Linked DNA regions of Homo sapiens: region 1 is linked to region 2. Evidence: fine-mapped expression QTL. A gene starts in region 2. The other region holds a variant in brackets. All regions are shown on one strand. Distances are from middle to middle. Region 1 overlaps GCGR (glucagon receptor). Region 2 holds the start of ARHGDIA (Rho GDP dissociation inhibitor alpha).

Evidence for each region. PIP is the estimated chance that this variant, and not a neighbour inherited with it, causes the effect.
Region 1: its variant is fine-mapped to the expression of ARHGDIA in neutrophils (BLUEPRINT, PIP 0.95).

Annotation. Positions count from the first base shown.
Region 1 is chr17:81,807,460-81,811,831 of GRCh38, forward strand. It overlaps GCGR (glucagon receptor), which reads left to right. Exons shown (of 14, transcript NM_000160.5): 2 at 1,383-1,619; 3 at 2,323-2,425; 4 at 3,366-3,473; 5 at 3,551-3,672; 6 at 3,763-3,869; 7 at 3,945-4,101; 8 at 4,192-4,351. The coding sequence starts at 1,560. Among named protein-coding and RNA genes, the nearest start is that of GCGR, 5.5 kb to the left of the region's middle. The variant GTC/G (reference allele first, on the strand shown) is at 2,282.
Region 2 is chr17:81,869,288-81,873,659 of GRCh38, forward strand. It overlaps ARHGDIA (Rho GDP dissociation inhibitor alpha), which reads right to left and starts at 2,050. Exons shown (of 6, transcript NM_004309.6): 1 at 2,011-2,050; 2 at 454-670; 3 at 255-338; 4 at 43-119. The coding sequence starts at 643. RefSeq lists silencers at 118-327, 1,358-1,787, 1,988-2,397 and enhancers at 458-637, 2,578-2,647, 3,098-3,197.

The sequences.
Region 1 (4,372 bases), 62 kb before region 2:
GCTCACCCAGCCGCTACCTGGAGGAGGCTAAAATCCAGGCTGTCCCGTGGCAGCCAGCAGTCCAGGCCTGCCCGGAAACCCTCTGCTCCAGCTGCAGCCTTCGCCCATCTCCTTGCCCCTCTCCCCGGCTTCCCCCTGGCACTGCCTTCCAGCTGGCTGGCCCTCCATCTGCCCAGCCATCCATCCACACCTCTTATTCCATTTGAGGGTGCCCCAAAGAAGAGCCCGTAACAGCCCGGGGGCTCATAGCCAGCCACTCGCGGGACCCCGCACATGCACGTGGACCCACAGGAAGACCCTCCCTGCTTCTCCCACAGAATTCAGTTGGTGCAGAAACTGGGCTCTGTAGCAACGAAAGGCCGATTTGTGTAGCTGTTGCCACCCCGAACTCCCAGCTCAGATGCTGGCTGTGGCATGGGGACCAGGGGCTGTGACTCCCACAGCCCTGGCAGGCACCACGGGGGATGTCCTCCCCACCCTGTGCCCCCACCCTAGGCCAGCTCCTCCTCCAAGTCGACGCCCGCAGTGCTAACCTCAAAGGACTGTGCAGCCAGCCTGTGGCGTCCCATGGGATCCAGGAAGCCCAACCGAGCCTTGCACGGCACCCACGAGGCACCTAGGCACCCCGGTGCTGGGCAGGGGGCACACATGTGACACAGACCCCTGAGTGTGGGCCCCACACACTTGGCCTGGCACAGCTGCAAGCCAGCCCAGCCACTTTGCTCGCTGTGGCACTGGGGCCAAGTGATGGAAGGTCCAGGCACCGCCACCCTCACGCTTGGCACATTGGCTCAGGTCAGCCTGGCAAGCCAGCTTTCCCAGGGGCTAAGAATAGGTGAGGAGGATGGTGAGGAAGCAGCCGGGGGCTGTCAACTGAGGGAGGAGGTCACCATCTGGGGAGGCTGGTCCCCCACCCAAGAGCATTGGGTCAACCTGCAGGAAGGTGGCTGCCACCAGCAATGAGACGAGGGGCTCTGCGACCCTCAGAGCTGCCAGCCAGCCAGCCCTGGGTGGCAAGAGTGACTCCTCCTGGGGTCTCCTCCCTCCTATCGCCCTCTTTTTTTTTTTTTTTTTTTTTGAGACGGAGTCTCGCTCTGTCACCCAGGCTGGACTGCAATGGCTTGATCTCCGCTCACTGCAAGCTCTGCCTCCCGGGTTCACGCCATTCTCCTGCCTCAAGCTCCCGAGTAGCTGGGACTACAGACGCCCGCCACCACGCCTGGCTAATTTTTTGTATTTTTAGTAGAGACGGGGTTTCACTGTGTTAGCCAGGATGGTCTCGATCTCCAGACCTCGTGATCCACCCCCCTCGGCCTCCCAAAGTTCTGGGATTACAGGCGTGAGCCGCCGCGCCCGGCCCCCAGCTCCCTCTTTATCCCTAGGACCCTGAGGCTCAGAGGGGCAGCTTCAGGGGAGGACACCCCACTGGCCAGGACGCCCCAGGCTCTGCTGCTCTGCCACTCAGCTGCCCTCGGAGGAGCGTACACACCCACCAGGACTGCATTGCCCCAGCTGTGCAGCCCCTGCCAGATGTGGGAGGCAGCTAGCTGCCCAGAGGCATGCCCCCCTGCCAGCCACAGCGACCCCTGCTGCTGTTGCTGCTGCTGCTGGCCTGCCAGGTGAGGACTCACAGCACCCTCAGCACCCAGGGGCCCTCCTGTGAGGACTGCACACTGATGGCTCTCTGTCTGCCTGCCTGCCTGCCTGCCTGTCTGCCTGCCTGTCTGTCTGTCTGCCCGTCTGCCTGCCCATCTGCCTGTCTGTCTGCCTGTCCGTCTGTCTGTCCATCTGTCCATCTGCCTATCCATCTGCCTGCCTGTCTGCCTGTCCGTCTGCCTGTCTGTCTGCCTGTCCATCTGTCCATCTGCCTATCCATCTGCCTGCCTGTCTGTCGGCCTGCCTGCCTGCCTGTCTGTCTGCTGCCTGTCTGTCCGTCTGCCTGTCTGCCTGTCCGTCTGCCTGCCTGTCCGTCTGCCTGTCCGTCTGCCTGCCTGCCTGTCTGTCTGCCTGCCTGTCTGCCTGCCTGTCCGTCTGCCTGTCCGTCTGCCTGCCTGTCTGCCTGCCTGTCTGCCTGTCTGCCCGTCTGCCTGTCTGTCTGCCTGTCCGTCTGCCTGTCTGTCCGTCTGTCCATCTGCCTATCCATCTGCCTGCCTATCTGTCTGTCCGTCTGCCTGCCTGTCTGTCTGCCTGTCTGCCTGTCTGTCTGCCTGTCTGTCCATCTGCCTATCCATCTACCTGCCTGCCTGTCTGCCTGTCTGTCTGCCTGTCTGTCTGCCTGCCT[GTC/G]TGTCTGTCTGTCTGGTTGCTTGTGCATGTGTCCCCCAGCCACAGGTCCCCTCCGCTCAGGTGATGGACTTCCTGTTTGAGAAGTGGAAGCTCTACGGTGACCAGTGTCACCACAACCTGAGCCTGCTGCCCCCTCCCACGGGTGAGCCCCCCACCCAGAGCCTTTCAGCCTGTGCCTGGCCTCAGCACTTCCTGAGTTCTCTTCATGGGAAGGTTCCTGGGTGCTTATGCAGCCTTTGAGGACCCCGCCAAGGGGCCCTGTCATTCCTCAGGCCCCCACCACCGTGGGCAGGTGAGGTAACGAGGTAACTGAGCCACAGAGCTGGGGACTTGCCTCAGGCCGCAGAGCCAGGAAATAACAGAACGGTGGCATTGCCCCAGAACCGGCTGCTGCTGCTGCCCCCAGGCCCAGATGGGTAATACCACCTACAGCCCCGTGGAGTTTTCAGTGGGCAGACAGTGCCAGGGCGTGGAAGCTGGGACCCAGGGGCCTGGGAGGGCTCGGGTGGAGAGTGTATATCATGGCCTGGACACTTGGGGTGCAGGGAGAGGATAGGGCTGGAGGACTCACCCGGGAGGCAGTGCCTGGGTTCGGATGAGGGAGGCAGCCACCACTGGGCAGAGGGGGGCAGGTGTGGCAGCCTCCATTGGGCAGAGGGAGCAGATGTGGCAGCCACAGGTTTGGCGATGCACCTGGGAAGGATGAAAATGGCATTGGGGTTCAGCCCCCAGAGAGGGAGGTGCTGAGAGAAGGTCACGGAGAATGGGGGACCCCAGTGTGGGTTTGGGGCACATTTGAGATGGGGGGTCTCCAAGGGAAGGTGTCCTGCAGAGCTGCAATTCAGGGCTGGGCTGGGCGTGCTAGCGGAGGCTGGTCCAGGGGAGGTGGATGGTCAGGTGAGGAAGGTGGAGGTCAGATGGGGGAGGTGGAGGTCAAGTGGGGGAGGGAGCAGCCCAGGCCATGTCCTGGGCGAGGTGACGGCCGAGCTCAGGCTTCCAGAGAGAGGAGAGAGGCCTGCTGAGGGAGCCCCTTCTCCCACCCTGCCCTGCCCTGCTCTGCCCTGCCCTACCCTACCCTGCAGAGCTGGTGTGCAACAGAACCTTCGACAAGTATTCCTGCTGGCCGGACACCCCCGCCAATACCACGGCCAACATCTCCTGCCCCTGGTACCTGCCTTGGCACCACAAAGGTACCCATAGAGGGGAGGAACTGTGGGGGGGGCGGGCCCAGGGTGGGGCTGACCCCAGCCTCCCCCCACACCCCCAGTGCAACACCGCTTCGTGTTCAAGAGATGCGGGCCCGACGGTCAGTGGGTGCGTGGACCCCGGGGGCAGCCTTGGCGTGATGCCTCCCAGTGCCAGATGGATGGCGAGGAGATTGAGGTCCAGGTCAGTGGGCGGCAGGCAGGCGCGGTGGGGCTGGATGGGAACGGGCATGGGGGCCCCTGCCTGGCCCTCACAGGCCACTGTAACTCGCAGAAGGAGGTGGCCAAGATGTACAGCAGCTTCCAGGTGATGTACACAGTGGGCTACAGCCTGTCCCTGGGGGCCCTGCTCCTCGCCTTGGCCATCCTGGGGGGCCTCAGGTAGGATTCCGCCAGCGCCCGGGGCGGCCGCAGAGGACAGGGAGGAGGACGGGCGCTGACTGGCTGTGCCCACAGCAAGCTGCACTGCACCCGCAATGCCATCCACGCGAATCTGTTTGCGTCCTTCGTGCTGAAAGCCAGCTCCGTGCTGGTCATTGATGGGCTGCTCAGGACCCGCTACAGCCAGAAAATTGGCGACGACCTCAGTGTCAGCACCTGGCTCAGTGATGGAGTGAGCCCCCCTCGGCGGCCCCAGGCAGGTGGGTGGGTGGGCAGCCAGGCAGGTGGCCACGTAGCCGCGCTCACACTGCACCTGTACCAGGCGGTGGCTGGCTGCCGTGTGGCCGCGGTGTTCATGCAATATGGCATCGTGGCCAACTACTGCTGGCTGCTGGTGGAGGGCCTGTACCTGCACAACCTGCTGGGCCTGGCCACCCTCCCCGAGAGGAGCTTCTTCAGCCTCTACCTGGGCATCGGCTGGGGTGAGTGGGCTGGCATGAGAG
Region 2 (4,372 bases):
AGCCCCGCCTCCATTCCCTGGCCACAGCAGCCTGTAGCTTACCCGGAAAGAGATTTTTATCCGGTACTCCACACCCTCCTTCAGCACAAACGACTGCTTCTTGAAGCTCTCCAGGTCGCCTGTTGGGGGGACCTCCCCCTCAATGACTGCCCAGCAGCCCTGCGCGAAGCCCCAGCCCTGCGCGGCCCCCTGGCTGCACTTCCCGAGATCCCCACCAGGGGCCGCCCGGACCCCCGCGGCCGCAGGGCACTCACCCGTCAGGTCCAGCTCCAGGGGGCCCGGGGCCGAGCTGCACACCAGGGTCAGGCCAGTCACCACGACGTTGGGGACGTTGGGGTCTGGGGAGTGACAGCAGGTGAGGGCCCCACCCCCACCAGTGGAAGTAGGGGCTGGGGAGCGGCAAGACAGCTGGAGTGAACGGGCGGCCACCCGGCTCCCGCAGCCCAGACTCACCTGCGGAAACGGCCACGCGGCCCAGCAGGGCCTCCTTGTACTTTCGCAGGCTCTCGTCGTCCTTGTCCAGCTCCTGGATCTCCTGGATGCTCTTCTGGGCCGGGGGCTTGTAGTTGACCGAGTGCTCATCCTCCTCGTTCTCCGCTGCAATCTGGGCCAGCTGCTCGGCTGTGGGCTCCTGCTCAGCCATGCTCAAGCTTAGCCTGGGTCGGGACACCTGTGGGCGGGACGGTGACAGGCCTTGGACCTGGATCCCCAACGGAGGCGCACTTCTGAGCAGGAGTGTGGGCTGCAGCCGGAGCTCCAAAAGGGCTCCAAGGGGGCCACCTTCGCTCCTCTCCACCCCCGCGATTCCTGCTCAGGGGCATCCTCTGGGGCAGTGTGAGGTGCCCCCACCCCAGGTATAACATCTAAGACAAAATGGGAACTGCAGCCGATCATGGGGAGAGAGGACACACCTCCCCCTCCACGATGGAGGAGGCAGCAGCCCCCTGTATGTGTGGGGCGGGGCTAGCAGGCCCCAGAATCAACCGGCGGGGCCCACACTAAACCCTCTCTTAGGGTCTTGCCGCTCTTGAGCTGCCCAGGCCCTCGCCCTACGGGGTAACGGGGCTCGGTATCCCTCAGTAGGGTTGCTCCTCTGGCCGTGGTAGTCACATGTAAACGTGTGTGGTCGGCTCAGCGTCATCTTTCAAACAGGATGCCCCTGGAGCTCGGATGTTAGGGGCAGCTAGAATACCGCACGGGGCCACCTGGACACGGGGATCCTAAGTATCTGCGGTTTCTCCACAATTGTGAGGGTCTGTGACCTACAACTTGGGAGCTACCACAGCCACTCAGTACTCTCGGGCCCTCTTGTAGATGGTGGGCCCGGAGTGCCCGGGGCAGCACTGACCCGGCAGGGGATCTGTCAGGCTCAGATCCTTCCCGGCAGCGTGGGAGGTGGGTCAGGGAGCAGCACACCCGGGACACCCAGGCCGGGGTCCAGGCCGCCCTGCTTCCTCCAGGGGCTGGGGCCTCCGCGCCGCGCGAGGATAGCCGTAGGCGCCGGGATCCTAGGGCGCGGCCCGCACTTCCGCAGGGCCCGCAATCCGTGCCGGGCGTGGCCCGGGCGCTGGGGGAGGCCGCGCCCCAATCCCCGCGTCGCCCCCGAACGCGATGGACCGCGGCTGCCGGCCCGGCGCCCCCCGCGTCCCCAAGGAGGGGCCCTCAGGTCTGGCCCGGGCCCCACGCGCCTCGGCGGCCATGAAAGAAGCTCCGGACCGCTCGGGAGGGGCCGGCACTCCCCTGGTCCCCGCCGCCCCTCCGGCCCGGGACCCGCACGTGGGGCCGGGGCCGCCGCCGCCCGGTCCCGCCCCGGCCCCGCCCTAGCCCGCACCGCCCTGGCCCGCTGTCACCGCGCCCCCGCCCGCCGAGACCCTGCCGCGGGCTCAGGGCGGGGCGCGAACAAAGGCGGAAGCCCCCACCTCAGCGCCCCCCGCCCCCGCCGGCGCCGCCGGTCCCCGCCCCGACCCGCCGCCTCCGCCCCGCCGCCTCCGCCCCGCCACGGCCACTCACCGGAGGGTTCGGCCGCGCGGTTCAGGATCCCTCCCGCACTAAATGACGAACGTCGTCGGCCGCCCCGCCCGCCCTGCCTGTCACTTCCGGGGTCACGAGACTTCCGCTCACTCGGGCGGGGAAGGCCAGGGCGCATGCGCGGCGCGCGGGTGGCCGGGGGCACGCCGTCGCCATCTTGCGGCTGGGCCTCGTGGGCGCGTTCCGCGTGGGTTCTGGCGTCGTCACCTTCCACCCCAAGCCCCGTCAGTGGTCACCTCTGTAAGCCAGGGCACTTCCCTACGCGAGCCCAGGGCGCCCGCACCCGGGAGGCGAGGTCCGGTCCCGCCTCTCGCCGCTGCCCAACCCGCGCCCACTCGAGGCCTGCGGCGGCCGCGTGGGCTGTGGAAGCCCGCGCAGGTGCAGTGCGCTGCCCTCCCCGGCCCAGTCGGTCCGACTGCGACTCTTGCTTCGGGGCCTAGTCACCTAGTCCCGGGACTTCGGGGAGGTAACGGGCACGGGGATTAAGTTCTCGTTAAACACGGGCGAGAGCGCTGGCGCGCGGGCCGTTCCAGGGCCTTGGTGTCCCCCGTGGAAAGACAGGGCTGTGGGGCTAGGAGGAGCCCCTTGCACGCCCCGCGGAAAGCTGGTGCTGGGCGAGGGCGCAGCGGAGGTGTTTTTCTCCAGGCTGAGACAGAATTCGTGCGCAGCGCGCGTGGCTGCCTGGCGCAGGCGCCGCTGCAGAGGCCCTAGTGTCCCTGAGGAATCCCGCGGCTCCTCAGGACCAGGAGGCAGGGAGCTCCTGGCACCGTGAGCAGATGAGGGGCTGCCTCAGCCTGGGCTTCACCGCAGAGCCCTGTTCCCCACTCCGCTTGTTCCGAGATTCCACACATTCGCCCACAAGGGCCGTGTTGAAGTATCAGGAACGGCCGCATAACGTGAGTGGCCTGGCCCAGCAGCAGTGCTCGCACCCAGCCCCGGGCTCGCCTCTCCTGGAGGCCAAGCCCCTAAATGCCCTGCACCAGACACTGGGTGGGACGCTGCCCCGCGTCCAGCCTGCAGCACTTGTTAGGACTGTGGACTCGTTAACGTGGACGCCTCTTTTATTTATTGATTGATTATTTTTTTGAGACGTAGTCTCAGTGTCGCCCAGGCTTGAGTACAATGGCACAATCTCGGCTCACTGCAACCTCCACCTTTCAGGTTCAAGCGATTCTCCTGCCTCAGCCTCCCGAGTAGTTAGGATTACAAGTGTGAGCCAACATGCCCAGCTAATTTTTGTATTTTTAGTAGCGACAGGGTTTCACCATGTTGGCCAAGCTGGTCTCGAATTCCTGACCTCAGGTGATCCACCCACCTCAGCCTCCCAAAGCGCTGGGATTACAGGCATGAACCACCGGGGTGCCCAATCTTTTTTTTTTTTTTTTTTTTTCTTCAAGACAGGGTCTTGCTCTTTTGCCCAGGCTGGAGTGCAGTGGTACAATCTCAGCTTACTGCTGCCTCTATCTCCTGGGCTCAAGCAGTCCTTCCACCTCAGCCTCCCGAGTAGCTGGGACTACAGGTGTGCAACACCATGTCCAGCTAATTTTTTATTTTTTGTACAGACAGGGTCTCACTATGTTGCTCAGGCTGGTCTTGAACCCCTGAGCTCAAGCGATCCTCCTGCCTCAGCCTCCCAAAGTGCTAGGATTACAGGTGTGAGCCACCATGTCCGGCCACCCAGCCTCTTTTAATCACTCTTGAGCTCCATGCAGACAGGGCCCTGTCTGTTTGGCCCATACTGCCAGGCAACCCAGGCTGATCAAGAGAAGTGGAGACCACACGCACACACACACGCACAGCTGCTTTGTTCAGACACAGACATGAACACAGGAGGGCATTTTTGGGGACAGAACTATGCAAAATACCGAGCTTGGTGTCTTTTGAAAATTTCTGAATGTTGGAGGGATATTTGAGAGTTTCTGTAACTGAGTCACACTGTCAGTGCCATGTCATCAGCACAGCGTTTCCTAATCAGGTGTGAAATGCTTCACTGTTAAAGACTCAGAGCCCCTGTGCAGGTGATCATGTTGCCCAACTTTCCAATAACCCAAGTGCTTTTAAAAAAAAACTGTTGGGCCGGGCGCGGTGGCTCACGCCTGTAATCCCAGCACTTTGGGAGGCCGAGGCGGGCGGATCACGAAGTCAGGAGATCGAGATTGTCCTGGCTAACACGGTGAAACCCCGTCTCTACTAAAAATACAAAAAATTAGCCAGGCGTGGTTGCAGGTGCGTGTAGTCCCAGCTACTCGGGAGGGTGAGGCAGGAGAATGGCGTGAACCCGGGAGGCGGAACTTGCAGTGAGTGGAGATCTCGCCACTGCACTCCAGCCGGGGCGACAGAGCGA